Linked DNA regions of Homo sapiens: region 2 is linked to region 1. The links come from fine-mapping of genetic effects on gene expression. A gene starts in region 1. The other region holds a variant in brackets. All regions are shown on one strand. Distances are from middle to middle.

Region 1 (15,694 bases):
ACATCTGCCTCTGGCTAGCCACACCGTCTGCCCTTGCTGTGAAGAACCACGTTTGCTCATTCTGCTTGTCAGCATAAACCTCCCAAACCCCTGACTCAGTGACTGAGCTCAGCTCTCTGTAAAAATGCTTGAAGACCATAAGCAGGATAGAGCACAGTTTCCCATGTCTGAATCACTGCATTTTTGGAAAAGATAAGTTCAATGAGCCGTTGCCTTTTCCTATCCATAAGATAACATCTGACAGGATTAATGAATATACCTCTGTAATCTATAACCAGACGTACTCTCGCTCCTGGACTTTGATGAGATTTTGCTCTAATGTAACCTCTGAGCACCTTTAGGTAACTTCCGAGCACATGCAGAACCTCCACCGCCTGTATAGAAGCGAGGGCTGAAACGCTGCTTTGAAGCAGTCTAACAGAGACTCTCTGAAAGACTCTCCCGGGTTGCAGTGCTCAGTAAGACTCTGAATAAAACTAACATTGTAACTTCTGAGAATTAACTAACGTTAATTCTTTAAAAGCCTGACTTTTTAAAAATTATTTAAAAGCCTGACAAATGAAAAGACTGATTTCATAATTTTATTTATTTTTTTTGAGACAGGGTCTTGCTCTGTCACCCAAGCTGGAGTGCAGTGGTGCCATCATGGCTCACAGCAGTCTCAACTTCCTGGGCTCAAGCAACCCTCCCCCCTCAGCCTCCCAAGCAGCTGAGACTATGGGTGTGCACCACCACACCAGACTTGATTTCATAAATATTAAAAACTTTTTCTTCAGCAAGAAAAAAGATAACAATGTAACAGCAAGGTGGGAAACATACCTAACCCAGTATTCATAATCAAAATATTTTAAGAGATTTTACAATCAATAAGACACAGACCAGCCTGGGCAACTTAGTGAGACCTCGTTTCTACAGAAAAATGGAAGTAATAAATAAATAAAAATCAGCCAGACATGGTGGCATGCGCCTGTAATCCCAGCTACTTGGGAGGCTGAGGCAAGAGGATCACTGGAGCCCAGGAGATTGAGGTTGTAGTTAGTCATGACTGCACCACTGCACTCCAGCCTGGGTGACAGAGTGAGACCCTGTCAAGAAAGAAAGAAGGAAGGAAGGAAGGAAGGAAGGAAGGAAGGAAGGAAGGAAGGAAGGAAGGAAGGAAGTGGGGAGGGAAAGAAAGGAGAAGGAAAGGAAAGGAAAGGAAAGGAAAGGAAAGGAAAGGAAAGGAAAGGAAAGGAAAGCAAAGGAAAAGGAAAGGAAAGGAAAGGAAAAGGAAAGGAAAGGAAAGGAAAGAGAAAAAGAGAGAAGGAAAGAAACAAAAAAGAAGGAAAGAAAGAAAGAGAGAAAAGGGAGAGAAAGAAAGAATGAAAGAGAAACAGAAACAGAAACTCACCCCACAGGGAAAATGGGAAAGCCTCTGAACAGGCAGTTCACAGAAGAATAAATGTAAATGGTTGATAAACTTACAAAAAGATGCTCAACCTCATTAGTAGTTAAGAAAATTAAAATGAGTTTTTAATCTTCATGGCAAAATTTAGAAAGACTGATACTATACAAAGCAACGTTGACCATAGGAGAAAGATACTGTTGTGTACTATTTATGGAAGTGTACATTGGTAAGGCTTTCTGGGGTACAATTTAATACATATCCTTTCAGCCTGAAAGTTTAAGCCATGTTAGAAATCTAACCTACAGAAGTACACACATAGATGTGCAAAGATGATGTATATACAGGACATTCATTGTAGCATTGTTTCTAATGTTGAAAAATTAGAAACAACTCAAGAATCTTTTCATAAGGGAATGATTAAATAAATCAACTGGGAAACTATGCACCTATTAAAAAGAAAGATTTACATGCTGACATGAAAATTTCTTCAAGGCATATTGATAAGGCCAAAATATTATAAATATTTTATAAATTGTGGAATAATTTATAAAATATATCAGTCATATACACTAATATATATACATATACATCTGGATATATAAAAAACAATTAACTGTGGTTACCTTTGGTTAGTGAGGAGAATGGGATGGGAGGACACAAAATGAGAACTTTTTTGTGGTATGCTCAATTCTGCAAGTAATAAAAATATCACAATAAGAATGATTTCTTGTGAAATGTTTGTAATTACAGTTTTTTGTTATAGACTACATACTACATAGGAGGCACGCAAAGCCCCGAAGTAATGATACTGCATAAATCCAAGGCACTGATATTATCGTACTCATTATTATTGTCAGCGTTCTTATCCTCCACAGCTATCAACACTGATATGCCTTTCATCAGAGAAATTTAAACAAGATTTACAAATAGAAGTTCATTTAATCACAGAGCACACCTTTGAGGCAAGGCTATAATTCCAAAATACAGACATAATAAATGACTTGCTTAGAGTCTCAAACAAGTCAGGAAATGATCCAGAGCCAGGATTCCACTCTCGTACAAATAAATATATATACTGGCTCTCAGCACAGTGCTATAAATAACCCCATCTGCTGGCATTTCAGTTTCTCCCCAAGTAATTGAGTGTTTAAATGACCTGTAAACCTTCACTTTGGCTTTAAAAATTGTCTATATCTAGCATTCTTTTTAAAGGGATGGCTTTTAAAAGTTTAACATCAACCTTCCCGAGAAAGTTAAGGGAGTAAGATTAATTTTCACCTTCTGTAAGAGGGCAACTCTGGAAGAACATACTATTTTTCCAAATGACAGTTCTGACTATATTATTTAGCCCAAGATCAATAACTTAGCAGAAGTACTTTGTAACTGCATTATCCCAATCCTGAAAACTTTCTTAAGAAAAGGAAGTATAAAAGACACTGATCTGAATCAGGAAAACTGATCCAAGCACTGTCTATTCCAAAAACTGTATGTTGCATATAGTTTTGCATAAACCCATCAACTTCTCTAAACCTGAGATTCCTCATTCCTTGTAAATAGGGATAAGAATACCTCCCTGCTTAATTAAATAAGTTGTCTCAAGTTTCAAATGAGAGAGAGATTGTGAAGGTACTCTGTATGTTCCAGACAAATGATTATTAATGGACCAGGTGCAGTGGCTCACACCTGTAATCCCAGTACTTTGGGAGGCCAAGGTGAGCAGATCACTTGAGCTCAGGAGTTTGAGCCCAGCCTGGGCAACACGGTGAAACCCCATCTTTACCAAAAATACAAAAAAAAAGCTGGGAGTGGGGGTGGGCACCTGTAGTCCCAGCTACCAGGGAGGCTGAGGTGGGAGAATCACTGGAGCCCAGGAGGCGGAGGTGGCAGTGAGCCAAGATTGTGCCACTGCACTTCAGCCTGGGCGACAGAGTGAGACCCCATCTCAAAAAAATTATTTTAATTAAATTATTATTATTTGAAACTTGGGTTCTCAATACAAGTAAACCTGTCCTTCTCCCCGAAAATATGAGAAAGTGTCTGATTTGTAATATTCAAGCCTCTCAATTTGGGGCCCAATAATTAGTTTATTTTCTAGACCAATAGTTTCAACTACAGGGTTTAGAAAAGGAGTATATGACATTTATTTGTGAGGTGTGTCATGATTTCATGATTTAAAGTAACAAAGTAATTAGCCTTTTATAAATCAAAGAGAATTACACTAGAGATGTTGCAATATCTGCCACAGTTCTTTTCTGAGTGAACTGCCCTCCTTCACCTTCTGCTGTACCTGCTGTACACACCAATCCTGACTTTTTCTTTTTTTTGAGACGGAGTCTCACTCTGTTGCCCAGGCTGGAGTGCAATGGTTCAATCTCAGCTCACTGCAACCTCTGCCTCCTGGGTTCAAGTGATTCACCTGTCTCAGCCTCCTGAGTAGCTGGGACTACAGGCGTGCACCACCACACCCAGCTAATTTTTGTATTTTTAGTAGAGACGGGGTTTCACTATGTTGGCCAGGCTGGTGTCAAACTCCTGACCTCAGGTGATCTGCCTGCCTCGGCCTCCCATAGTGCTGGGATTACAGGCATGAACCACTGCGCCTGGCCTTTTTTTTTTTTTTTTGAGACAGTCTCGCTCTGTCACCCAGGCTGGAGTGCAACAGTGTGATCTCAGCTCATTGCAACCTCCACTTCCTGGGTTCAAGCAATTCTCCTGCTTCAGCTTCCGGAGCAGCTGGGATTATAGGCTTGCACCCCATCATGCCCAGTTAATTTTTGTATATTCCTGCTCTTTTTTTTAACCACAACCAGATCTGGATTAAAAGGTAAGCAGTTGGGGCGTTGCCCAAATCATTTATCTGAAAGGGGCACTGAAATATCACTGGAATAATCAGTAACTATAGAGCCAATTAACATTTGCATAGGCAAATTCTTACACAAGTAGAGGAATATAAATTTTTTCCTGCTTCAGGGAAGTGGAAACTAAAAACAGTAGTATTAATCTTTCAATCTAAATAACAGAGGGAGGCTCTCTAGAAGAAAACGATGTTTATTTGGGAATACAGCATTCCAGTGGGAATATGTGTGCCATAGTAAACTATGTGCACATTCAGGGAGGTAAGGGAAGACAAAGGTTTTTAAAGGAAAAAATGTGGAGGATTATAATAATTATTTTGAGATAATTATCTTTGGCTACAAAGATCAGTAACAAGGGTGACAGCAGCCCAAGACTGCACAGGGAGTTGCTGGGGAGATGTCCTTGAAGAACTATTTTTTGTCTAAGATTTTGACAGCGTTTGTGCAAGGTTGTGGTTTTGCAGTGTTTTGTGACAGTTTTTGTTAGCAGGCATCTGTGCATGAGAATCCTCTTAATGGCCTTCCTGGGTTCTATTTGTCTGGGTTTTTTTGTTTGTTTGTTTTTTTCCCCCACACTAGTGACTCTATCTTGATTCTGACAATTTTCACAAACCTAAGAGTTACTGGATTTGTTTTTGTTGTTGTTTGAGACAGGGTCTTGCTATGTTTCCCAGGCTGGTCTGGAACTCCTGAATGGCATAAAATGTTACAAGGGATTGCATCTGAAGAAGGAGCCAAGAAATGTTTTTTTGTTATTGTCTATAATATTTTTAGTTCTACTTGAATTTTTAAACTCTATGCTTGCATTGCTTGGATAAAAATTAAAATCAAAACAAAACAACAAAAAGAATACCTCAAACTTGGGCCTTTAAGCCAGAACAAGTAAACTACACATCACAAGATCACTAGCTAAGGAGAGGGAGCTCCAGACATTCCTGTCCATAGTTGCCTTACTTCCCACCTAGCACTGTCACTGTGTAACATTGAAAACAAATTTTAAAAGCAAAAACAGTTTTGGGTCAGTGTGGTGGCTGGCTCATGCCTGCCACCCCAGCACTTTGGGAGGCAGAGGCGGACAGATTGCCTGAGCCCATGAGTTTGAGAGCAGCCTGGGCAGCATAGCAAGACCCTGTCTCTGTAAAAAGTAAAAAAGAAAAGCAAAACCAGTTTAATGAAAACCTTAAATGCCCAGTTAAAGAGTTGATCATGCCAAAAAGGGGATAACTTTGAGTAAAAAAATGACTTTAGGCTGGGTACAGTAGCTCATACCTGTAATCCTAACACTTTGGGAGGCTGAGGCAGGAGGATCACTTGAGCCCAGGAGTTCAAGACTACCCTGGGCAACATGACGAGACCTCATCTCTACAAAAAATACAAAAATTAGCCTGGTGTGGTGGTGGTGGTGCGTGCCTGTAGTCCTAGCCACTCGGGAGGCTGAGGTGGGAGGATCACCTGAACCCAGGAGGTTGAGGCTGCAGTGAGCCATGATGGCATCACTGCACTCCAGCCTGAGCAACAGTGAAACCTCATCTCAAAAAAAAAAAAAAAAGACTTTAATGTCTGTATTTTAGATAAAGTGCTTTTCTGTGTGTAGGATAAATTTGATAGAGATTGTCTGGTAGCTAAGAGATTGGTTAAGGAAATTGATAGTAAGCCCAGAGTGATGGCAGAAGAATTGGAGAGAAAAGTTGGTCTTAGAGATTAGAACAATGGAGGACTTTTTCTTGTTATTATTATTTTATGTATTATTTATGCATTTATTATTTTTATAGAGATGGGGTCTTGCTATGGTGCCCTGGTGTCAAACTCCTGGGCTCAGGCAATCCTCCTGCCCTGTCCTCCCAAAGTGCTAGGATTACAGGCATTGGCCACCATGCCTGGCCAAGGACTTCTTGGTGGCTGATCAGGGTCCTTTTTAATGGTAAGGCTCAGCCTCCTTACCTAATACATTACTGTAATATTATTCACAATAGTTTTCTGCCTAATATAAATCAAGTATGCACATAAACACAGTTTGTAGTTCCCACAACCAGCATCACACCTAATCCAGGTTCTGCCACTAATTAGTTCTTGGAACTGGGGCAAGTTATTTACCTCTTTGTGCTTAATTTCCTTATCTGTAAAATAAGGTTAATCAACTGATAAAATTGTTGTGAACAGTAAAAGACTTAATAAATTTACAAGTGTATAGGCCAGGCCTGGTGGCTCATACCCGTAATCCCAGCACTTTGGGAGGCCAATGCGGGTGACTCGTTTGAGGCCAGGAGTTTGAGATCAGCCTAGCTAACATGGCAAAACCCCATCGCTATAAAAAAATACAAAAATTAGCCAGACACGGTGGCATGCACCTGTAGTCCCAGCTACTCAGGAGGCTGAGGTGGAAAGATCATTTGAGCCCGGGAGGTTGAGGTTGCACAGAGCTAAGATCGTGCCACTGCACTCCAGCCTAGGCAACAGAGTGAGACCCTGACTCAAAAAAACAAAAACAAAAACAAAAAAAGCGTATACAATAGCTCCCCGGCCTACATTATGTATTCAATAAATGCTAGCTATGTATTACTGGTCTGAGTTCTACATTGTCTGTATTTTTTCTTATCTGTCCCATCAACATTCTGTAATAATTTGACAAAACGATTACAAAAAAAGTTAAGTTTCATGAACTTTAATTATGAGACACTTCAGATTTGGGGCCCTATATTAATCCATTCTCACACTGCTATAAAGAAATACCGAGACTGGGTAATTTATAAAGGAAAGAGGTTTAATTGACTCAGCTGCACATGCCTGGGCGGCCTCACAAAATTTTCCAATCATGGAGGAAGGGGAAGCAGGCACGTCTTACAGGGCAGGTCTTACATGACGGCAGGTGAGAGAGAGCATGTGAGACCACAGGAAAAACTACCATTTATAAAACCATCAGATCGTGTGAGAATTCACTTAACTATCAGAACAGCATGGGAGAAAACGTCCTCATAATCCAATCACTTTAATCCTTCCATACGTGGGGATTAAAATTCGATATAAGATTTGGGTAGGGACACAGAGTCAAATCATATCAGGACCTAATTCCTAAACTTTAGATGTACTTATTTAAACACTATTCTGCCTAACAGTTTAATATTTTGGGTTTTCCCTCTTCATGAAGATGTAAACAAGATGTGTAAAGATTGGTTTGGGAGCCCATGGCAAGGACAGGAAAATCAAACACATGTTCTCACTCATAGGTGGGAATAGAACAATGAGAACACCTGGACACAGGGTGGGGAACATCACACACCAGGGCCTGTCGTGGGGTGGGGGGAGGGGGGAGGGATAGCCCTAGGAGATATACCTAATGTAAATGACGAGTTAACGAGTGCAGCACACCAACATGGCACATGTATACATATGTAACAAACCTGCAAGTTGTGCACCCTAGAACTTAAAGTATAATAATAAAAAAAATAAAAAATAAAAAAAGATTGGTTTGGGAGCACATATGTAAAAGGTTTTTCTAAAATATGAAACACGAAAATATATTATTCCAATATTATTCTGAAGCCAGACAACTCCCGCAATGACAAAATCCCTTGCTCTTCAAGCGCGACTGTACCCCCTTCCCAAAAACGATTTATGCATTTATGGTTAAAGTTCAAATGAAGCTGATTTAATAGAAATAATTTAAAAATAATAATGAGAATATATGGACAGCTTACTATAGGGTGAGATGATGTTGTAATTGACTTTAAAACATTTGGAACTAAATGTCAGTCCTAGGAAATTATGCACTCCTGTAAATTGTGCTATTAAGGGTTAGGTTTCTTTCAACACTTTAGATATTTGATCAGAAGCATATTTAAGAAAAACGAAAGCTGCCCTTGCTTTTGACCCCAAGTTGAGAATTTTCTATCATTGGTGCAGTGCCTGAAAATACGATCCAATCTTCATTTAGTCATTTGTACGGAGTCTGGAAAGGCTAAAACATTGCAAATAATAGGACCTACTCGTACTTTCCCCGCTTAAGAAGCGTATCTATTTCAAGGTGCCTATTTGGAAAAACAGACTCCAGGTCTCCACCACAGAACTTAACACAAAATGAAAGCACACAACCCGCAGCCTTTGGCTGTGGTGTTTTTGAAAACAAGGAAGGGCACAGAACCATGGCTTAAAATACCCGAAAGCTGCAGCCCACAAAAAGAGTATTTCAGGGCGGGTTGGCCGTTCCCTGCAGGCAAACGTTCGGTGCAGGCGGCCGGGCGTTCCTGCGGGGAGGGCGCCACTGTGATGCAAAGACATCAAGCGGACTTTCAGCTTGCCCGTGGACGCTGCGGTGCCGCTTTCCCTATCCAGTCCTGTTCCCGCGGCTCCCCAGCCTACCCCGGGCCGACCAAGAGGTCCGGCGGGGTCTGCGCCGCATCAGCGCCCGCTCGTCAGGCCTAGCCCTCCGCACAGCCAAGGCCGACCAGACCTCTAGACACTCCGTCGTCGGGTGTGGGGCGGAGAAGTAAAGGGCGAGTTTTCTTCCTAGATTCCAGTGGGAACCAAGAAAAGGAGTTGGCAGCTGTGTAAACTGGACCTGGGGTGCGGCCTCCGGGAACAAAAGAGGTGATAAATGCACAGCAGCCGAGGTTCTGCGTGCTCCTTTGGGGCCACTACGAATCCCCGTGAATCACCCCAGCCCGGGCAGAGGGCCAGAAATGATGAAAATGCAGATTCATGGCTTCCACTCCAGCCCTACAAGATCACCAACCGTATCTGGCAGTACCCAGGAATCTGCATTCTCGACAAGCGTCCGCGCCGACGGGGCTAGTGAAGTTTGAGAACAATTGCTTCCTACCCAGCCGCTCCGCTATCACCTAGGTAGCACGGCCGCTGCGGCTGAGGCTGTGACTGCGGCTGCGGCTGGGCCGCGCCTCAACCGAGCTTGGTCCTTTCCTTTGGTCCCGCCCCGCTGCTCAGCGCGGATTGGTGGCGGGACGCAAATCTGGCGCTGATTGGGCGGCGGCAGAGTCGCTCGTGAAGATTGTAGGGTTCGGGTGCTCTAGAGTGCTAAATTTATCTTCAGACCGGCGACCGCGCCAGCCGCGAATCGGATCTCTATGGAGATGGCCTAGGCGATATCCCTGAGCTGAGAGCATCACCCTGTCCCCGAATCCTTCTTTCCTCTCTGTTTTGTTTTTCATTCCCCTCCCTCTCTCCCCTCCCCCTCCAGTCCACGACGACTGGCTGTTGACCCTGTTCAGGCCTCGGTGAAGGTGAGAAGCAGAGCCGCCGCCGCGGCTAAGCGGTGCGCTCTGAAATGGCCGCTTCCTGGAACTGCCTAAGATGGCGGTCGCGGGCTCTGCTGTGGACCGCGGCGCTGCTGTGCAGCCCAGCCGCGGCAAAATCCGTTCTCTCCATCGCTGATGGAGATGAAATAGAGAGATGGTGTTGGGTGCTGAGACGTTTTCATGTGGTCGTTAGCGCAGGCGGCCGCCCGGGGACGCGAGAGAAGACCTGAGGCGAGGGTGGGCTGCGACTGGTAGGGAGCCCCCCAGTCGTGGCAATCTGTGGGCAGCGCGCACCTGTGACAGGGAGGAGCTGAGGGATAGTTGGCCCTGGCTGCACATCCAGGTGACCGTTTAAAAAAGCATTTAGGTGTTGGAAGGAGCATCTGTTCCCACCTTTTTGGCTGGCCTGCACTCAGATCCTGTCCTCCTGACCCTGAGGGTATTGTTCCCAGCCGGAACCGCCCGAAGATAGGGGAGAAAGGATTGTGATACTTGTCAGTTTAACCGGAAGGAGACTAAAGACGGAAGTTTTCCCCGCTCTTCAGGGAGTGGAAAGGAAACTTTACTCTCAAAGGAGTCCAGATTCTTTGTCCTCGAGAAATTCGGGGAAACACCTTCGAAGAGGTGGGGTTGAGGACCTTCTTTCTGAAAACAAAAGCTTCCTACTCTTCTGTGTCCTCTGGCAACGAGAGGGATCCTGATCTTTTACGTGAACCAGCAGCTCCACAGAGTTCTCCGTTGCAAAATCCAAAAGGAGACTGTGGAAGGAGAATCTGCTTTTTTGCTCCCAATAAGAAGCAGGGCTTTATGCTGTTGCTAGTATGAGACCCTCGACTTTCTGGCAGTTATAATCCATTGTTCATCCGTTTCGCTGCATAACCCAACTCCTAGTAACGAGATTTTTTAGTAGTTGGGGAATTAAAAGTATTCAGGAACACCCAAGTAATGGCTAGACACATGGGCTATGCAGTCAAACTTTTTGGGCTCTGAACTTGGTTTTTCACTTACAAGAGGTGTTAGCGAGATGTGTTAACCTGTGTCTGTTTATCTCTAAAGTGGGGTTATTAATAATCCTTGTGTCTTCATAGATGAGATAATCTATATGAGGGATTTAGCAGTAATTGGCATACAGTAAACAATCATCAGTCATTAGACATTGTTTACCTGAGGAGATTGGTCACTGGGGGGCTAAAAATGATTGTAGTGAAAGAACTGCTTCATGTAATAGTTCTATGTATAATTCCATTTTAGATTCAAGACCTAGTTTTAGAGACATTGATGAGGTTGTACTTTTAAAAATTAGGCTTAGTTTCAAGTTCTAGAAAGTGTGGTGGTGGTGTTGTTTTAACATGTTTCTATGAAGTCAGTAGGTGGGGGAACATCTCAAAGCATCTAAATTGCCAAGATATTGAACAGGATGAAAATGTTAGAATTTTTACTATGCTAGGCGTCTTCTCTTTCAGTCCAAGATCTGCATTGCAGTAAAGAATCATTTTCACTGCTTAGATCCAGAAAGAATAAACCCATCTTACGGGTTTATAGTTAGTTCTGCTTGTTACTGTATCTAATTTTAATTTTTCTCATTCTAGGCTTTTGGTTACTCCCCTTCCCACCCCATCCCTTAATTTTATTCTTTTGAAGAGTGCATTTCAAGCTGCCAAGGTGGAGAGAGGGATTACAGAAAGGAGAACACCTTATTTCAGGTATCTTATCCTCTACCCCTTAATAGGAGAACCATTTTGACTCAAGATCTAACATGAGAATACAAAACTTACTCTATAGCCAGGTTATAAAGTTTAAATCAAAAGTAGCTATATTTGGACAGACATAATTTGTATGCCTTGATTTATAGAGTTAATAGTATTCTTTAGCAATCCTTAGATTGCATTATCCTTTTAATTTTGATTTGTTTTATTATATGAGAAATAAACCTCTTAAATGAGAGTTTATTTTTTTTTTTTAGGTCCTGGTTAAGTCGTCACCTGTTGTATAAATAGAATGCAGAGTTATCTGTAAAAATATACATTACTTTCATTGAGTCTTAATTTGGATAATATAAACGTTTATATAATTTAAGTCCAGAGAAACAGTACCTAACTTTTGATATACAATTTATTCTTCATTGTTAACGCATAACATTTAGGATACAGTAGAATTATGTATCTCGCAAAACTTGGAACTGTGTGTGTGTTTAATTCACTTCTTCAGAATTGTTGCTAGCCCTGAAGGGACTTCAGATATATAATAGTATCAACAACTAATACATCTAATGACAGTAGGCATCAAAAGCTAAAAGAGATTTCACAATACTACATACCATGAGACAGGGCTGATAAATTATGGCCCATGCTGTCTGGTTTTGTACGTAAAGTTTTATTGGAACACACCTGTGTCCATTCTTTCATGTATTGTCTATGGCTGCTGTCATGTTACAACTACAGAGTTGAGTAGTTGCAACAGAGACTATATGGCCCTTGACCAAAAAAAGCCTGCCAACCCCTGCCATGGGACATATTCTTCAGGGTCCCTTTCTTAAAAATATGTATAACAACTCTTAATAATTTATTGGCTCAGTGATTCCCAAATTATGTTTTATAGAATATTAATATTCTCTAAGTTAATAAATGTTTTGAGAAAATGATTGATGCTAATATTGGTTTTTCTTTATGGTTGATTTTAATATGTTTATTTAAATATGAGATTAAGACTGCTAAACTCATTTCTATAGCTTTTATTTTTATGTGATAATCTACCTTTAAGAAAAGGTGTACCATACCTGAGAGCACCAGGAAGTCGCATGAGAGATCACCTGATACATGAACGTATGATGTTCCATCTGCGCATTGATGAATAGGCAGCATTTACAAATTAACTGATGTGTTGCTGTATATCATCTCTTTGATGATTGCTCCTCTTCTTTGTATCCTGTCTTATAATTTCAACACATTTGCGATACTCAATGTCTATTCTAAATTAACCATGTTTTGTACCACAAACTCATTGCCCATGGATCTGTTGCTGAAACAAGGAAGTCTTAAACAAGAAGTGGAATCTTTCTGTTATCAGATTGTGTCTGAATCAAATGATCAGAAGGTTGGAATATTACAAAGTGAAGATAAGCAGTTGCAACCTTCAGTTTCTAAAAAATCAGAAGGTGAGCTTTCCAGGGTCAAATTTATATCCAATTCCAACAAAATAACATTTAGTAAAAAACCAAAAAGAAGAAAATATGATGAAAGTTATTTGTCTTTTGGATTTACTTACTTCGGAAATAGAGATGCACCTCATGCTCAGTGTGTATTATGTAAGAAAATTTTATCAAATAGCTCTTTAGCCCCTAGTAAGCTTCGAAGACATTTGGAAACTAAACATGCTGCATATAAAGACAAAGACATAAGCTTTTTCAAGCAACATCTCGATTCACCTGAAAATAATAAACCCCCAACACCTAAAATTGTGAATACAGATAATGAAAGTGCTACAGAAGCATCATACAATGTAAGTTACCATATAGCGCTGAGTGGAGAGGCTCATACTATTGGAGAATTGCTTATCAAACCTTGTGCAAAAGATGTAGTGATGCGGATGTTTGATGAACAATATAGTAAAAAAATAGATGCAGTACAGCTATCAAACAGTACTGTTGCACGTCGAATTAAGGATCTAGCTGCTGACATTGAAGAAGAGCTTGTTTGTAGACTGAAAATTTGCGATGGGTTTTCACTGCAACTAGATGAATCAGCTGATGTTTCAGGACTTGCTGTGCTGCTTGTGTTTGTTCGTTATAGGTTTAATAAGTCTATTGAGGAAGACCTACTCCTGTGTGAATCTTTGCAAAGTAATGCTACCGGTGAAGAAATATTCAACTGTATCAACAGTTTTATGCAGAAACATGAAATTGAATGGGAAAAATGTGTTGATGTTTGTAGTGATGCTTCTAGGGCAGTGGATGGGAAAATTGCCGAAGCTGTCACCTTAATAAAATATGTGGCTCCCGAAAGCACCAGTAGTCACTGCCTATTATACAGACATGCACTGGCAGTTAAAATAATGCCTACATCTCTAAAAAATGTGCTAGACCAGGCAGTACAAATCATCAATTATATTAAAGCTCGACCACATCAATCCAGACTATTAAAAATTTTATGTGAGGAAATGGGTGCTCAGCACACAGCACTTCTTCTAAATACAGAGGTGAGGTGGCTTTCTCGAGGTAAAGTTCTTGTAAGACTTTTTGAACTTCGTCGTGAACTTTTGGTTTTCATGGATTCTGCTTTTCGACTATCTGATTGTTTAACAAATTCATCTTGGCTGCTAAGACTTGCATATCTTGCAGATATTTTTACTAAATTAAATGAAGTTAATTTGTCAATGCAAGGAAAAAATGTGACCGTTTTTACAGTATTTGATAAAATGTCGTCATTGTTAAGAAAATTGGAATTTTGGGCCTCATCTGTAGAAGAAGAAAACTTTGATTGTTTTCCTACACTCAGTGATTTTTTGACTGAAATTAATTCTACAGTTGATAAAGATATTTGCAGTGCCATTGTGCAGCACCTAAGGGGTTTGCGCGCTACTCTGTTAAAATACTTTCCTGTAACAAATGACAATAATGCTTGGGTTAGAAATCCATTTACAGTTACTGTTAAACCAGCTTCATTAGTAGCACGGGACTATGAGAGCCTGATTGATTTAACATCTGATTCTCAAGTGAAGCAAAATTTTAGTGAACTTTCACTAAATGATTTTTGGAGTAGCCTAATTCAGGAATACCCAAGCATTGCAAGGCGTGCAGTGCGTGTACTTCTTCCTTTTGCTACAATGCACCTGTGTGAAACGGGGTTTTCATATTACGCTGCAACAAAAACAAAATATAGGAAAAGACTTGATGCTGCACCTCATATGCGAATCCGACTTAGCAATATTACACCTAATATTAAGCGGATATGTGATAAAAAGACACAAAAACACTGTTCTCATTAAAATTGGAGGAGTTTGCATGTCTCATGATAACCAAATGTAAGATGAAAATAAAAGATGATTTACTTCATCTCTGGTATTTGGGGGATTTAAATAAAATGATTCCATTTTTTTATACTATTTAGATTTTAAGAAGGCTAAAGAATCAAACGTTTTAAACATATTGTGTTATTATTGGTATTTCTTTACATTGTAATTTTAAAGAGTTCCATGATCATAACTGGGAAATAATGATCCCCAAGATAAAGTCCCAGTCCCTTAACATATCTCTTCAGGATCTAATCCCTACCAATCTTTCCGTGTCTACTCTGCAGCTCTCCAATCCCATGGAACTTCTTGCCATTCCCTAAACATATCACACTGTTTTATCGTTTCAGGTCTCAAAAAGCGATTCTGTCCCCATCTTACTTTCTGGTAGGCTCCTATTTGCTTCAACACTTTGACTTGTAGGTACTTTCATTCTCTGTATCTTCCTATTTTGATGCTGTTTCACACTTGTATTTAATGTTTGTGTCTGTCTCAACTGTGAACTCCTTGATGGTCTCACGGTTCCCAATGTTTTCAGACTAAGCTCTTAGAGAGTCTTATTGAGTCTTATCCAAATCTGTGTCTCCATAATCTGGAAAAAGGCTTTACTAAATTAGATGCTCAGTAAAGGAAAAACATGTTGGTGAAAGTGAACCAACAAAAAATGGAATGGGGGATTTCCTACATTCATTGATTGGTATGGTAGCAGGTGTACACACTGCTACCCTTTGGGTTTTTTGGCTCACTTACTCTATTAACTAGAGTTCAGTGTGGCCATTATGCAGAGGTCATCGAGGAATGTCATAGTTTTATGATTCAGGCTGAACTATTGAGGGAGAGGGGATGAAGTGTGAAGAGTATTTTCAGATACTTTGTTTTTTTCTCAGTTCCTATATAGATTATTGTAAATTCCACATGCAGTATAAATTAATGAGACTTTACTGTAGTCAGAGATGCTTAGACCAGAAATCAGTTTGTTCTTATAATACTGTAAAAATTTCCTGACTGAATTTCCTGTCTCTGGGCTACTTTTCCTACATCACGTCATGCAACACAGTTCACCAACTCAGTGTTAAATATTTGTTACTCCTGTAGTCAAGAACTACTGTAGATAACCATTATTTAATCTCATTTATTGAAACTTCCATTTTAGGGAGTAAAGGTACCACCCCCCACCATTAAGGCAGAATGTGGTA
Region 2 (15,694 bases), 19 kb before region 1:
TAAAGTAAAAAGTATCCAATATAAATACAATACAGAGTCTAATCTTTCCTGGCCTTGAAGACCTCGATATGTTGCTAATAATTGCAATAAAAAAAAAAACTCATTGTGAATGATAACCTTATCTTGAATTCTGCATTAGTCAGTCAGTTAATGATACATAGCCTCCTTTGATGCTACAACCATCCTTCCAATAGCTCTCCCACAAAGATTTCCATTTATTTGTTTGATTTCAAACTTGGTGAAAAGAAATTTTTATCTTAATTTCATACCAGAAAACATGAAAGAAGTAATGAAAACATGCTGAAAAGGATAGATAGTTTTTAAACAGGACCTTAAAAACCAGACTCAATCCCTGCTGCCAAATTCAGTGAGGGATTGTTTAGAGTAAAAACAGAGCATTGCTCTGGGATTGAGCCAACTAGAAAGACTGATACACCATGACGTCTCTGGCTTGTATAACCTCCCTGCCCTTGATGTGAACTCTGGAAGGAAGCAGCACAACCAAAGTTGACAGTGAGGTGAAGAGTGCACCTCCAAGTCATAAAGTACCTAAAACCTCACTATTCAAGTCAACTAGTTGGGAGAAAGATCCATCCAAACTAGTGCAAAGTCCAAATTCCCATTATTTCCAAATAGAAGAAATACTTTTGGATTTAAAAAAATGACAAATGGAATCAAAGTTTTTCCACTTTTTCCAAAAATGCCATTGAAATAATAAAGATATAAAAAGAAAAAAAAATACCAACACTAAAAAAATCAGGAAGAATTCTATGACCCCCAAATAAATGTTGAATTTCTGGAAGATATGAAGCAGACAGGACAAATATAATTCTTGATGTATATTTTTAACATATGTCTAAATATAAATATTTGATTAATGGAGCAAACTGACAAAAAGACAGTTAGTGCCAAGGGTGAGCACTCAACACAGGCAGAAGAGAATAGGGAAGTAAGTAGATAGGTTTCCCCAAAAGACCTATATAAAAAAAAAAATCAGACTTAGCACAGCAACAACATAAAAAGTAGGCTGGGGGAAGCTCAAGAGAATTACACTAAAAGACTTACATTTTAGAATTGTGTCACTGTCTCATATGCTAGACCTACAGACCAGTACTTCTAAATGTGTGAGGCCTGTGAGATAAAAACTATTTTCAAAATAATACTAAGCTGTTATTTGCCTTTTTCACTGTATTGACATTTGTTTTGATAATTGTTGCAGGAAGCCAGGCACCCCGAATGGAGAGACCAGCTGAAGCCGCGGCAGAAGAACAAAAATTGTGAAGATTTAATGGACATTTATCAGTTCCCAAAATTAATATTTTTATAATTTCTTACGCCTGTCTTTACTGCAATCTCTGAACATAAATTGTGAAGATTTCATGGATATTTATCACTTCCCCAATCAATACTCTTATAATTTCTTATGTTTGTCTTTAATCTCTTAATCCCGTCATCTTTGTAAGCTGAGGATGTATGTCACCTCAGGACCCTGTGATGATTGCATTAACTGTACAGATTGTAAAACGTGTGTTTGAACAATATGAAACCAGTGCACCCTGAAAAAGGACAGAATAACAGTGATTTTCAGGGAACAAAAGAGATAATCATAAGGCCTGACTGCCTGCGGGGTTGGGCAGAACACAGCCATATTTTTCTTCTCGCAGAAAGCCTATAGATGGATGTGTGAGTAGGAGAAATATTGCTGAATTCTTTTCCCAGCAAGGAATATTAATAATTGATAGCCCTGGGGAAGGAATGCATTCCTGGGGGGAGGTCTATGAACGCCTGCTCTGGGATTGTCTGTCTTATGTGGTTGAGATAAGGACTGAAATACACCCTGGTCTCCCGCAGTGCCCTCAGGCTTGCTAGGATTGGGAAATTCCAGCCTGGTGAATTCTAGTCAGACCGGTTGTCTGCTCTCAAACTCTCTTTCCTGTTAAGATGTTTATCAAGACAATGCATGCACAGGAGGACATGGACCCTCATCAGTAATTCTAATTTTGCCCTTGCCTTGTGATCTTTTATTGCCCTTTGAAGCATGTGATCCTTGTGACCTACTCCCTGTTCGTACATCTACTCTCCTTCTAAAATCCTAATAAAAACTTGCTGGTTTTGCAGCTCAGGGTCGCCATCACGGTCCTACCAATATGTGATGGCACCCCCAGAGGCCCAGCTGTAAAACTTCTCTCTTTGTACTCCTTCTCTTTATTTCTCAGACCGGCCGACACTTAGGGAAAATAGAATCTACGTTGAAATACTGGGGGGCTGGTTCCCCCAGCAGATAATGCAAAAAAAAATTGTGGTGCAAAAGTAATTGCACCAACCTAATATAACAGAATAACTGAGACTACATGATTTATAAGGAACAGAAATTAATTATCTCACAATTCTGAAAGTTGATCAAGGCATTGGCAGGTGAAGGCCCAGTTTCTCTGCTTCCAAAATGGCACGTGAATGCTGTGTCCTTTGAAGGGGAGGAAGGCCAGGTCCCCACATGGCAGAAGAGCAGAAATGAGAGAAGGCCACTCTCATTCCTGTGAGCCCTTTTATAACATCATTAATCCATACACCTCCCAATACTGTTGCCATAGGGATTAAGTTTTCAACACATGAATTTTAGAGGAAACAATAACATTTAAACCAAAGCAGACACTTAACTGATACTAATAGTCATTATATTCTTTATCGCCAGGTACTCACAGGAGGGGGAAAAAAACTGTTTCACATAAGAATGCCCTGGTGAAGCAGTAAAAATTATTAATGTCATCAAAATCTCAACCTTTGGGTCTTTTAACATTCTGTGTGACCAAATGGGATGTATAAGGCACTTCTATTGAATACCAAAATCTAATGATTATCTCAAGAAAAAGCACTTGTACAATTAATTGTTTGAGCTGCAAGCTGAATTAGCTGCTTTTTTTACGGAACACCATTTTTTTCTTGAAAGAACAAGACATCAAACTACAGTAATTCAGACTTGGTTATCTGTCAGACATTTTCTCAAAAATGAATGAAGTGAGTCTGCAAGAAAAACAACTGGCAGTATTTGTATCCAATGATAACATTCTAGCTTTCAAGCAAAAATTGGAATTTTGGGAAACTTGTATATGCCACTATAAGCTTGACATCATCACAATACTATGACTTTTTTTAATGAAATCAGTGGTAATATTAATGAATGTGGTTTTTGATGCTGTACAAAGAAATGTGTCAACATTTGAAAGATATGCATAATTCAATGAACCAATATTTTCCAAATGGCCAGTGCATCATGGTACAAAATCATGCATGGGTAATAGAAATTTTCAAGGTACAAAATAGGGCACTAGATTTTAACATAATAGACTACATAACTTTCACTGCTGTGGTTTCAGATTCCACATTGGAACCATCCTTTAAGAAACTAGCTAGGACTTGTCCAGTTTTGGTGTAGTATCAAAGAAGATTATCCCCACTTATCTGAAAAAGTTATTATAATACTCCTCCTTTTTTCAAGTACATATCTGTGTAATGCTGGATTTTATTCATATACTTCAACCAAAGCCATATATTGCAATAGACCCATTGCAGAAGCAGATCTGAGAATCCAACTGTTTTCTGTTAAGCAGTCATTAGGGAAATTTGTAAAAATGTAAAACAGTGCTACTCTTTAATTTTCTTGTGTTGAAAAACAGTACTTTTTCATAAAATATGTTATTTATATTTACATGTAGTAGGTTTATTATTGTGTTTTAGGATGTATCAATTCTTAAAAATTTCTCTCATTTCAATTTCTAATACAGCAACTCACAAACAAAAGCCCTTTGAATCTTCAATTTTTAAGCGTGCAAAGTGGTCTTGAGATAAAAAATGTGGAGAATCGGTGCTGTATTTATTCCATGTTTGCCATGGCTAGGGGTAAAAAGGAGATGGGAGGGGTGGAAAAGTGAATATTGATAGTGTCCCAGCTGCAACCCTAGTGGGAGAGTTGCACATCATGGAAGTGACATCCCTTAACTTTATCTGCTACTTGGGTAAATCTCTTCATACCTTTTATGGGGCTAAATTTCTTAGGAAACATGAACATCCCTAAGATCCATCAGTAGATGCTAGAAAGTGATAATTTGAGAGCAGGTTTAGCAGAGAAAATGAAAGCATTCCCATACAACCCACTCAAATGCAGAGCTGCTGGCCCGGCCCCATACAAATTTGAGAAAAGTAGGGAGATCAAATGCATGACCTATAATAAAAAGAAAAGAAAATCGCCTGCTGCCAGTTTTATGGCTCCCTACCCTTAGGCAAACATACCATGAGTTTGTATACCCTGGCAGGTACTTTCTTCCCCTAGCGCCCTAGGATTTACAAGACCTGAGCTGTAAAGATGGTAAAGTACTAATATGTAGGATTTTAAGGCACAGGCAAAGCCTCAGGACAAGCATTTGGATTCTTACAGATGATGATGGTTAAGCATTTAATCACCAAGAGTTCTATGTATTAACCAAGGTTTGGTGCATTTATGGACAAGTTGGTATTGAATTTTTTAAATTTAGATATATATGAATCTGCTACAAGATACATTCTCCTTCAGACTATCACAAATTTTCTTTTCCTTTTAAAAGTGACTTCTTATTTTCAGTGAAGGAAACAAATTATTACTATGTCAGTGATAAGGCCCTTCAGTAAATCAATAATGTTTCAATAAAATTCTGAGAACATGCAAATCATTCTACTAAAATTATCAGTGAAATGGCTTGGCTCTCCAGAAAAATCCAATGTAGTTTCTTTGAAGAGTGATAAAATTACTTTCTCTATCTCAATTCTGGTGACTTAATTTGAAATTTTTAAAAGGGTGTCATTGGTAGAGTTACAGGTCCTAGGAGAATTGGAAAAATGGCAGTCCTAACTGATAACACATTATCTTAGTTTCTTGTATAACTGCCCTCATTTTTCATCTTCATTTTAGTAACTAAGAGTTAGGATTTGAGAACACTTGGGCCAGGTCTGCTATTATCTTCAGCAATCTTTGAAATTCCCACCTCTCCCTAGAGTAGCTAGACAAAATTTTTCAGCAGTCAATGGCAAAAATAAGAGAGATCTGAAATGCAAACACTTTTCACTTCCTCTAGCAATTCCTCTTGCTCCAGAAGAATAGGACTTCACGTGTGTTTATGAAAGAAAAGCGGGCAGAGAAATATTATTAAGGTGAATAAACGGTGGTATTATGTCCATTTCAATGCCAGTATCTTCCATGATCATTCCTGGGCTATAAAGAACACACACCACAGAGCTTGTCAAGGATCCTCGTATCTTCCTCACTAATGTTTTTCTTTTTGCTTTAGGGAAGGAAATCTCCTCTGAGACTTCTTGAAAGATGTAGGAGAGAGAAATGGGTACACTGGTCTCATATGAAAATCTATTCCAACATTCCTATCTCTTTAGCTTTTGGAGTCCTTTCAAATATTATGCAAGAGAAGTTATGGCACCAAACTTCATCGAATGTAGGCCATCAATGAGGCAAAAATTTAGTCATTCCAGAAAGCTATTAGAGCCATTTCTAGCTTTATCTAAAACATTAAATCTAGACTATCTGGTAAATGTTCTTATATCAATATGTTAATCCTGAGACAAAATTATATTCTGTTCCTTTTAGCCTAACACCCTTGTATACTATTCTCACACATATTTTCTTGGTTTTTTCTATATGAATTATCAAAATCCTGCTTTTTTTTTTTTTTTTTTTTTTTTTTTTAGGTATAGGCAATTTATCCCCAGGTCTGAATCTCCATTCTGTTTGAGTATGCTGAGATCTAACTCAAGTTTAGGTCTAGACTAAAAAATAATCAGCAATGGGGATGGGTCTTGAGGATAATAAGTATCCCTTGTAAGGCAGCTGCTTCAGATGAATTGATTATAGAGTTTTCAAGAAGGAAAGGTCAATCTTCTCTGTTGTTTTTGTTTTTGTTTTTTGAGACGGAGTTTCGCTCTTGTTGCCCAGGCTGGAGTGCAATGGCGCAATCTCGGCTCACCGCAACCCGCCTCGGCCTCCCAAAGTGCTGGGATTACAGGCGTGAGCCACCACACCCAGCCTTTTTTTTTTTTTTTTTTTTTCCCGAGACGGAGTTTCGCTCTTGTTGCCCAGCCTGGAGTACAATGGCGTGATCTCGGCTCACCGCAACCTCAGCCTCCCGGGTTCAAGCAATTCTCCTGCGTCAGCCTCCTGAGTAGCTGGGATTGCAGGCATGCACCACCACGTCTGGTTAATTTTGTATTTTTTTAGTAGAGACAAGGTTTCTCCGTGTTGGTCAGGCTGGTCTTGAACTCCCGACCTCAGGTGATCCGCCCTCCCCGGCCTCCCAAAGTGCTAGATGACAGGCGTGAGCCACCGCGCCTGGCAATCTTCTCTGTTATAAGAGGGACTGCTTCTGCTTATTCAGAGGGACCTGGGCATTTAGCTTCATCCAAGTCCAACGCAAGTCTTAGAATCCCGCTTGCTCCCAGTGCCCTGATTGTCACATAAATGACTTGATGAGTCTCTAAATTTAATTTCCATTTTAATTCTGCAACCCACCTAGTTATATTTTTAATAATGTTGATCTTATAGCTATAAGAAATCAGAAACTTTTTTCAAAGTTGCTATAGAAGTTCTCTGTCTCAATTTGACTTGAACTTAGACTTCAAAGTCTTCAATTTGTCACTTTCTGCCTGTAAGGTTTCCAGTGCATAGATGTCATCCCACTCACAGTCCTTGTTGTCATCTGTACTACCACAATGGTAAAATGCAGCAGCCACTTGATCCCTGAAGGCAACTACTTCAATAGGTATTTTTTCCCAAGAAACCATAGATGATACTTTAATTAATCATGATCCTACTTATGTTATAGATTACCAGAATCTTGTTTTCCATTGGCAAGGAACTAAGCATTTCATTCAAGGCCGGCGACATCTACAAATTAATCTCAGAATTTTTGGAGGAGTGGAGACAATGAATATACTATTTTCATAATTAAGTGGTTCTGAGCTGGCATATAATGAGCAGTCCTCTTTATGTCAGTCCAGTCAGAAAAACAAACAAAAAAAAAGCCATACTAGGTATTTCAATGGAGGAAATTTATTTATTACAGGGAAATTGGTTATACAGGCATTAGAGGGCTGAAAAGCAAAATACAAAGGCTGAAAAACCAAAAGTCATCTAGAAATAATAACTTCAGAAAGCAGCTACCACCTCTAGGGCTGGAGGAACAAAAGGAAAAATATGAAGTAACCAGAACTTAGAAGCCCAGAATTGCAACCACAATCTTTGTGGAAGGTAGAACCATCTGGCTGCTGTGGATAATCTCTGAGCGGGTACAGGGGGAATCACTGAGGCTGATTCCAGTAGTGCTGAAAGAAGCTGAAGTGGCACTGCCACTGCTGGGAGAAGTGTCTCTAGGTGAAGAAGCATTGCTGGTCCTGTAAGCAACATTAACAAGAACAGAAAAAACAGGAAGCATATTCTCTCCTTCTGCCTCCCAGTCTCTCTCTAGTGACCCCTATTGGCAGAACTGAACAGGAAGCAAGCTTAAAAAGAAGTCTGAGAAACAGTTTGAGGACAACTAGCCCCATCATTACAGGGAAGAAGAGTACAGAAGGTAGATTTAGAGGTGAGGGGCAATAAGTAAATGACTCGCACAGATGGTGTTCATGCTCAATGTTTCTCTTCTGAACAATTTTCAGATTTGGTGTTAAAGCACCTTCTGGCCAGGCGTGGTGGTTTATGCCTGTAATCCCATCACTTCGAGAGGCGGAGTCGGGTGGGGATTGCTTGAGGCCAGGAGTTCAAGACTACCCTAGGCAACATAGTGAGATGCTCGTCTCTATTAAAAAAAAAAAAA[AG/G]AAAAAAAAAGGGGACCCAAGGCCATATATCTGTTTCATTCCTAGAAACTCTCCACAGTGTCAGATGAAGACTGCAAATCCAGTGGTCCTACATTCACAGATAATTCCTAGCCTAGTAAAAACAGAGAGAAACAGAAATAAACAACAATATTAGTTTGAGTAGCTGGAGAGGATCACAGGAGTAATAATTCTTTGCCCTCCTCTCAACCCCAGAAATTAAAAGAATAATTGTAGTATTTTCATAAATAAGAAGTAGTTTGCTAGTCACTGACTTATATCATAAACGTTAGACACTATAATTCTCAATGTGCCTCAGTTACCACATCTGAAAAAAAATGATGATAATAATATCTACCTCACACCAATCTCTTCAGAAATCTTACAGGGAGACATTACTGTGGATTACATCAAGTTGGCAGGCTAAGTGTCTGTTAAAGATTAGCATAAACCTGATGTCAAAGCTGGAGGACAATAGACCATGAAAACAAAAGAAGAAATCTCTGGCAAGTCTCAATTACAAATATGAATTTTAAAATTATAAATATGTATTACCTAATTAAATCTAACATTATAATATTTTTAAAAATCAATTCATCATGACCCAGTAGGATTTATTCTAAGAACGTCAGGATGCCTCAACATTGGGAAATGTATAATGTAATTAATTACATAAACTCAGATTGAAGGAGAAAATCATGTGTTCATCTTGGTAAATGCTAAAAACAGCATTGTAAAGATTAAATACTTATTTCTAAATTTAAAAAGAGAAACTCCTTAACGAAGAATTATTAGAAGCCTACCTAAAATATCATGCTTTCATGATGAAACACTGGAAGTATTCTTACTAAAGTCAGGAACAAGACAAGGATACCTGCTGTGTCATCTCCAAGTTTAGACTATAAGTTGTAGACAATGAGATTTGATAAGAAAAGTAATTAAGAGGTACCAACATGAGAAAGGGAAATATTATTTACAGCTGAAATTTTAGAACTAATAAGATATTTAGTAAAGAATGGGCAAATACAAGATCAACACACAAATTTGTGGAAATATACAACCCTCCTAGATTCAATCAGGAAGAAATAGAAACCTGGAACAGACCAATAACAAGCAGTAACAATGAATCAGTAATTTTTAAAAATTGCAACAAAAATAAGTCCAGGACCAGATGGATTCACAATTGAATTCTATCAGACATTCAAAGAAGAATTGGTACCAATCCTACTGAAACTATTCCAAAAGTGGAGAAAAAGGGAATCCTCCCTAAGTCATTCTGTGAAGCCAGTATCATCCAAATACCAAAACCAGGAGACGACTTAACAAAAGAAAACTACAGACCAGTATCCCTGATAGACATAGATGCAAAAATCCTAAAAAACAAAAACAAAAAACTAGCTAACTAAATCCAATCACATATCAAAAGATAATACATCATGATCAAGTGGGTTTCATACCAGAGATGCAGGAATGATTTAATGTATACAAGTCAGTAAATGTGATATACTACAGAAACAGAATTAAAAACAAAAAAGCAGAAAAAGCATTTTAGAAAATCCAGTATCACTTTATGATAAAAACTCTCAACATAGAAGGGACATAACTCAAAGCAATAAAAGCCATAGACGACAAACTCACACTGAACATAATACTGAATGGGGAAAAGTTGAAAGCATTCCCCCGAGAACTGGAACAAGACAAAGATGCCATTTTCACTGCTTCTATTCAACATACTACTGGAAGGCCTGGCTAAAGAAATCAGACAAGAGAAAGAAATAAAGGGCATCCAAATAGAAATACAGGAAATCAAACTGTTGCTGTTCACTGACAGTATGATCATATAACTAGAAAACCCTAAAGACTCATCCAAAAATCTCCTAGATCTGATAAACGAATTCAGTACACTCTTTGGATACAAAATCAATGTACACAAATCAGTAGCACTGCTATACACCAACAACCAAGCTGAGAATCAAATCAAGAACTCAATCCCTGTTACAACAGCTGCAAAATACAATACAATACTCAGGAATATACTTAACCAAGGAGGTGAAAGATCTGTACAAGGAAAACTATAAAACATTGCTGAAGGAAGTCATAGATAACACAAACAAATGGAAACACATGCCATACTCATGAATGAGTAGAATCAATATTGTGAAAATGACCATACTGCCTAAGGCAATTTACAGATTCAATGCAATTCCCACCAAAATGCCATCATCATTCTTCACAAAACTAGAAAAAACAATTCTTAAATTCATATGGCACCAAAAAAGAGCCCATACAGGCAAAGCAATACTAAGCAAAAAGAACAAATCTGGAGGCATCACACTGCCTGACTTCAAATTATACTATGAGACTACAGTTACCAAAACAGCATGTTACTGGTATAAAAATAGGCATGTAGACCAATGGAACAGAACAGAGAATCCAAAAATAAGACCAAATGCTTACAGCCAACTGATCTTTGACAAAGCATACAAAAACACAAACTGGGGAAAGGATACTCTATTCAATAAATGGAGCTGGGGAAACTGGCAAGCCACCTATAGAGAATGAAACTGGATCCTCATCTCTCAGCTTACACAAAAATCAATTCAAGATGGATCAAAGACTTAAATCTAAGATCTGAATAAAAATTCTAGAGGATAACATCAGAAAAACCCTTCTAGACATTGGCTTAGGCAAGGAATTCATGACTAAGAACCCAAAAGCAAATGCAACAAAACAAGAATAAATAAATGGGACCTAATTAAACAAAGAGCTTCTGCATAGCAAAAGAAATAATCAACATAGTAAGCAGACAACTCACAGAGTGGGAGAAAATATTTGCAAACTATGCATCCAACAAAGGACTAATAACCAGAATCTATAAGGAACTCAAACAAAGAAAAAAAAATAAGCCTATTGAAAAATGGGCAAGGAACACGAATAGAAAATTCTCAAAAGAGGATATACAGGCTGGGCGTGGTAGCCTGTAATCCCAGCACTTTTGGAGGCTGAGGTAGGTGAGTCACTTTGAGCTCAGGAGTTCAAGACCAGCCTGGGCAACAAGGTGAAAACCTATCTGTACAAAAATTAGCCAGGTATGGTGGCTCATACGTGTAGTCCCAACTACTCAGGAGGCTGAGGCTAGAGGATCACTTGAGCCCAGAAAGCAGAGGTTGCACTGAGCTGAGATCACACCACTGCACTCCAGCTTGAGTAACAGAGCAAAACCCTGTCTCAAAAAAAAAAAAAAAGGAGGCAATAAACATATGAGAAAATGTTCAACATCACTAATTATCAGGAAAACACAAATTAAAACCACAATGAGATACCACTTTAATCCTGCAAGAATGGGCATAATTTAAAAGTTAAAAATCAATAGATGTTGGTGTGGGTATGGTCAAAAGGGAACACTTTTACACTGCTGGTGGTAATGTAAACTCGTACAACCATTAAGGAAAACAGTATGGAGATTCCTTAAAGAACTAAAAATAGAACTACCATTCAATCCAGCAATCCCACTACTGGGTATCTACCCAAAGGAAAACAAGTCATTATATGAAAAAGACACATGTACACACATTTATAGCAGCACAACTCGCAACTGCAAAAATGTGGAACCAACCTAAGTACCCATCAACCAACCAGTGGATAAAGAAATATGGTGTATATATACACCATGGAATACTACTCAACCATAAAAAAAAAATGAAATAATGTCTTTTGTAGCAACTCAGATGAAGCTGGAGGCCATTATTCTAAGGTAGGTAACTCAGGAATGGAAAACTAAATATCACATGTTCTCACTTATAAGTGGGGAGGAGCTAAGCTAGGAGGATACAAAGGCATAAGAATGAATTAACAGAATTTTGAGACTTGGGGTGGGGGAAGGGTGGGAGGGAGATAAAAGACTACATATTTGTTACAATGTACACTGCTCAGGTGGCAGATGCACCAAATCCCAGAAATCACCACTAAAGAACTTGTCCTGTACTCCAAAAACTATTTAAATGTTTTAAAATTAAAACTTTTAAAAAAAGATCAACACACAAAATTCAGTAACTAGGGACTTTCATCTGCCCATACTGGCAGAGTACCTTGGTTATACTAACCCTCATTTAGATAACAATAATAAAATCTGGAAAAAAAATTAAAATTACTTAAAGGCACTGGAGGCTGGGTGTGGTGGCTCACACCTGTAATCCCAGCACTTTGGGAGTCTGAGGGGGGCAGATCACCTGAGGTCAGGAGTTCAAGATCAACATGGTGAAACACTGTCTCTACTAAAAACACAAAAAATTAGCCGAGCATGGTGATGCATGCCTGTAATCCCAGCTACTCGGGAGACTGAGGCATGAGAATTGCTTGAACCCAGAAGGCAGGGTTACAGTGAGCCAAGATCATGCCACTATACTCCAAACTAGGCGACGGAGCGAGACTTCATCTCAAAAATTAATAATAAAATAAAATAAAGTGCCTGACAGATAAGTAAGTGCTTAATAAGGCAACAAGGGGAATTGCTTACGGCCAGGAGTTGGAGACCAGCCTGGGCAACATAGCAAGACCCTATCACTATGAAAAATAAAAACGTAGCCAGGCCTGGTAGTGTATGCCCATAGTCCTAGCTACTTGGGGGACTGAGGCAGATGGATCCCTTGAGCCCAAGACTTTGAGGCTGCAGCGAACTATGCACTCTAGCCTGGGTGATAAAGATAGACCCTGTCTCAAACCACACACACAAACACAAAACATGACACCTCCAAAGGAACACAATAATTCTCTGATAACAGATCTGAAAGAAAAGGAAATTTATGAAATGCTTGAAAAGAACAGAGAAACTCAGTGAGTTACAAAAGAACACAGGTAAAAAATAGAAATCAAAGAAACAATTTATGATCTGAATGAAAAATTCAACAATGCAATAGATATCATTTAATAAAAAACAAACAGGTGGCCGGGTGCGGTGGCTCACGCCAAAGTAATCCCAGCACTTTGGCAGGCCGAGGCGGACGGATCACGAGGTCAGGAGATCAAGACCACCCTGGCTAACATGGTGAAACCCCGTCTCTACTAAAAAATACAAAAAAATTAGCCAGGTGTGGTGGCGGGCGCCTGTAGTCCCAGCTACTCAGGAGGCTGAGGCAGGAGAATGGCATGAACCCGGGAGACGGAGCTTGCAGTGAGCCGAGATCGCGCCACTGCACTCCAGCCTGGGCGACAGAGCGAGACTCCGTCTCAAAAAAAAAGAAAAAAGAAAAAACAAACAGAAATCCTGGAACTGAAGAATTTGATGAATAAAATAAAAAATACTATAGACAACTTCAACAATAGACTAGATTAGGCGTAAGAAATAATTTCTGGCTGGGCACATTGGCTCATGCCTGTAGTCCTAACACTTTGGGAGACCGAGGTGAGCAGATCACTTGAGGTAAGGAATTCGAGACCAGCTGGGCCAACATGGTGAAACCATGTCTCTACTAAAAATACAAAAATTAGCTGGGCGTGGTGGCACACACCTGTAGTCCCAGCTACTCAGGAGGCTGAGGCAGGAGAATCACTTGAACCCAGGAGGCGGGGGTTGCAGTGAGCTGAGATTGCACCACTGCACTCTAGCCTGGGTGATAAAGTAAGACTCCATCTCAGAAAAAAAGAAAGGAAGGAAGGAAGGAAAGAGAGAAAGAGAGAGAAAGAAAGAAAGAACGAAAGAAAGAGGAAGGGGAGGGGTAAGGGGAAGGGGAAGGGGAGGGAATTTCTGAACTTGAAGACAACTCGGAAAAAAAAAATGAAGAAAGCCTACATAACATATAGAACACCACAAAGTGACCAAATGTTCAAATTCTGGGAGTTTCAGAAGGAAGAGAAACGAGCAAAGGCATAGGAAATCTATTTAACAAAATAATAGCTGACAACTTCCCAAGTCTGGCAAGAGATTTAGACATCCCAGATACAGCTCAGAGATCCTCAAATAGATTCAACCCAAAAAGGTCTTCTTCAAGACATATTATAGTCAAACTATCAAAAGTCAAAGACAAAGAGAATTCTAAAAAGAGCAAGATAAAAGCATCAAGTCATGTATACGGGAATCCCCATCAGACAAACAGCAGATTTCTCAGCAGAAACTTTACAGGCCAGAAGAGAATACAATGGTATGTTTAAAGTGCTGAGAGAAAAACACTACCAGCCAAAAATACTAAACCTAGCAAAGATATCCTTCGAAAATGAAGAGAAATAAAATGCCAGACAAGCAAAAACTGAGGGAATTCATCACCACTAGACTGGTCCTACAAGACAGGCTTAAGTCAGTCCTATATCTGAAAGCAAAAGGACAATATTTGCCAACAAGCAAACCCATGCAAATGTAAAACTGGTACAGTAGATATATAAATAAGAAAGAGAAAGAAGTCAAACATTACTGCTACAGAAATCCACTAAACCTCAATGGTAAACAGTAAAAGAGGAAGAAAGGGACCAAGGATATACAGACAAGCAGAAAACAACAAAATGACAGAAATAAGTTCTCACATATCAATAATAACTTTTGTTTTTTGTTTGTTTGTTTGTTTGTTTGTTTTTAGACAATCTCACTCTGTTGCCCAGGCTGGAGTGCAGCAGCCTGTTCTCGGCTCACTGCAACCTCTGCCTCCCAGGCTCAAGCAATCCTCCCGCCTCAGCCACCTGGGTAGCTGGGACTACAGGCACACACCACCATGCCTGGCTAATTTTTGTATTTTTTGTAGAGATGAGGTTTTGCTAAGACATCCAGGCTGGTCTCAAACTCGTGGACTCAAGCAATCTTCCCACCTCAGATAAAGAATAATGTTATCTCCATTATCTGGCAAAAGGCATTACTAAATTGGATGCCCAATTAAAAAAAGAAATGTTGATGAAAGTGAACAAATAAAATGGAATAGGGAGTTTCCTACCACTCATTGATTGTTATGGTACCAGTTGAATTAATATATTACATTAACAGTTGCATTACATCAAAAAAACTATATGATTATCTCAACAGATGTAGATAAGTATTTGATCCCCTCACAATAAAAACTCTCAACAAATTAGGCACAGGAGGAACATACCAAAACATACTAAAGGCCATATATGACAAACCCACAGCTAATCTACTCAATGAGAAAAGCTGAAAGCCTTTCCTCTAGGAACTAGAAGACAAAAATTCTCACTTTCACCACACTTATTCAACATAGTACCGGAAGTCCTACCCAAGCAATCATGCAAAAGAGAGAAATAAAAGGCATCCAAATTGAAAAAGAGGAAGTGTGGCCAGGACCATGGCTCACACCTATAATCCCAACACTTTGGGAGGCCAAGGTGGGCAGATCAGCCGAAGTCAGGAGTTCGAGACCAGCCTGGCCAACATGGCAAAACCCCGTCTCTACTAAAAATACAAAAATTAGCCAGGTGTGGTGGCATGTGCCTGTAATCCCAGCTACTCAGGAGGCTGAGGCAGTAGAATCACTTGAACCTGGGAGGCAGAGGTTGCAGTGAGCAGAGATCGCGCCATTGCACTCCAGGCTGGGCAACAAGAGTGAAACTCTCTCTCAGGAAAAAAAAAAAAAAAAGTAAAAGAGGAAGTCAAATTGTCCTTCTTTGTAGACAACATGATCTTATATATAGAAAAACCTAAAGATGCCACCAAAAAACTTTTAGGACCAATAAATGAAATCAGTAAAGTTGCAGAATACAAAATCAACATACAAACATCAGTAGCATTTTTATATACCAATAACAAACTAGCTGAAAAACAAATCAATAAAATAATCCCATTTACAATAGCTACAAACAAAATGCCTAGGCATAAATTTAGCCAAGGAAGTGAAAGACCTCTACAAGGGAA

Direction of the effects. Positions count from the first base shown, and alleles are read on the strand shown. Sizes are in standard deviations (SD) of each study's normalised expression.
In carriers of allele G in region 2, the expression in prefrontal cortex of the gene that starts at base 9,121 in region 1 tends to be lower than with AG alone (small effect, 0.26 SD a copy in BrainSeq).

What was found. PIP is the estimated chance that this variant, and not a neighbour inherited with it, causes the effect.
Region 2: its variant is fine-mapped to the expression of ZBED5-AS1 in prefrontal cortex (BrainSeq, PIP 0.95).

Annotation. Positions count from the first base shown.
Region 1 is chr11:10,851,644-10,867,337 of GRCh38, reverse strand. ZBED5-AS1 (ZBED5 antisense RNA 1) reads right to left here and starts at 9,121. Exons shown (of 3, transcript NR_034137.1): 1 at 8,972-9,121; 2 at 2,011-2,077. It overlaps ZBED5 (zinc finger BED-type containing 5), which reads left to right and starts at 9,285. Exons shown (of 3, transcript NM_001143667.2): 1 at 9,285-9,476; 2 at 11,081-11,194; 3 at 12,252-14,632. The coding sequence starts at 12,393. The coding sequence ends at 14,474. RefSeq lists enhancers at 7,813-8,448, 8,850-8,939, 8,449-9,086, 9,240-9,619.
Region 2 is chr11:10,870,650-10,886,343 of GRCh38, reverse strand. ZBED5-AS1 (ZBED5 antisense RNA 1) reads right to left here. Exons shown (of 3, transcript NR_034137.1): 3 at 7,068-7,963. LOC124902629 (a long non-coding RNA gene) reads left to right here. Exons shown (of 2, transcript XR_007062588.1): 2 at 1,220-2,185. Among named protein-coding and RNA genes, the nearest start is that of ZBED5-AS1, 20 kb to the right of the region's middle. The variant AG/G (reference allele first, on the strand shown) is at 7,851.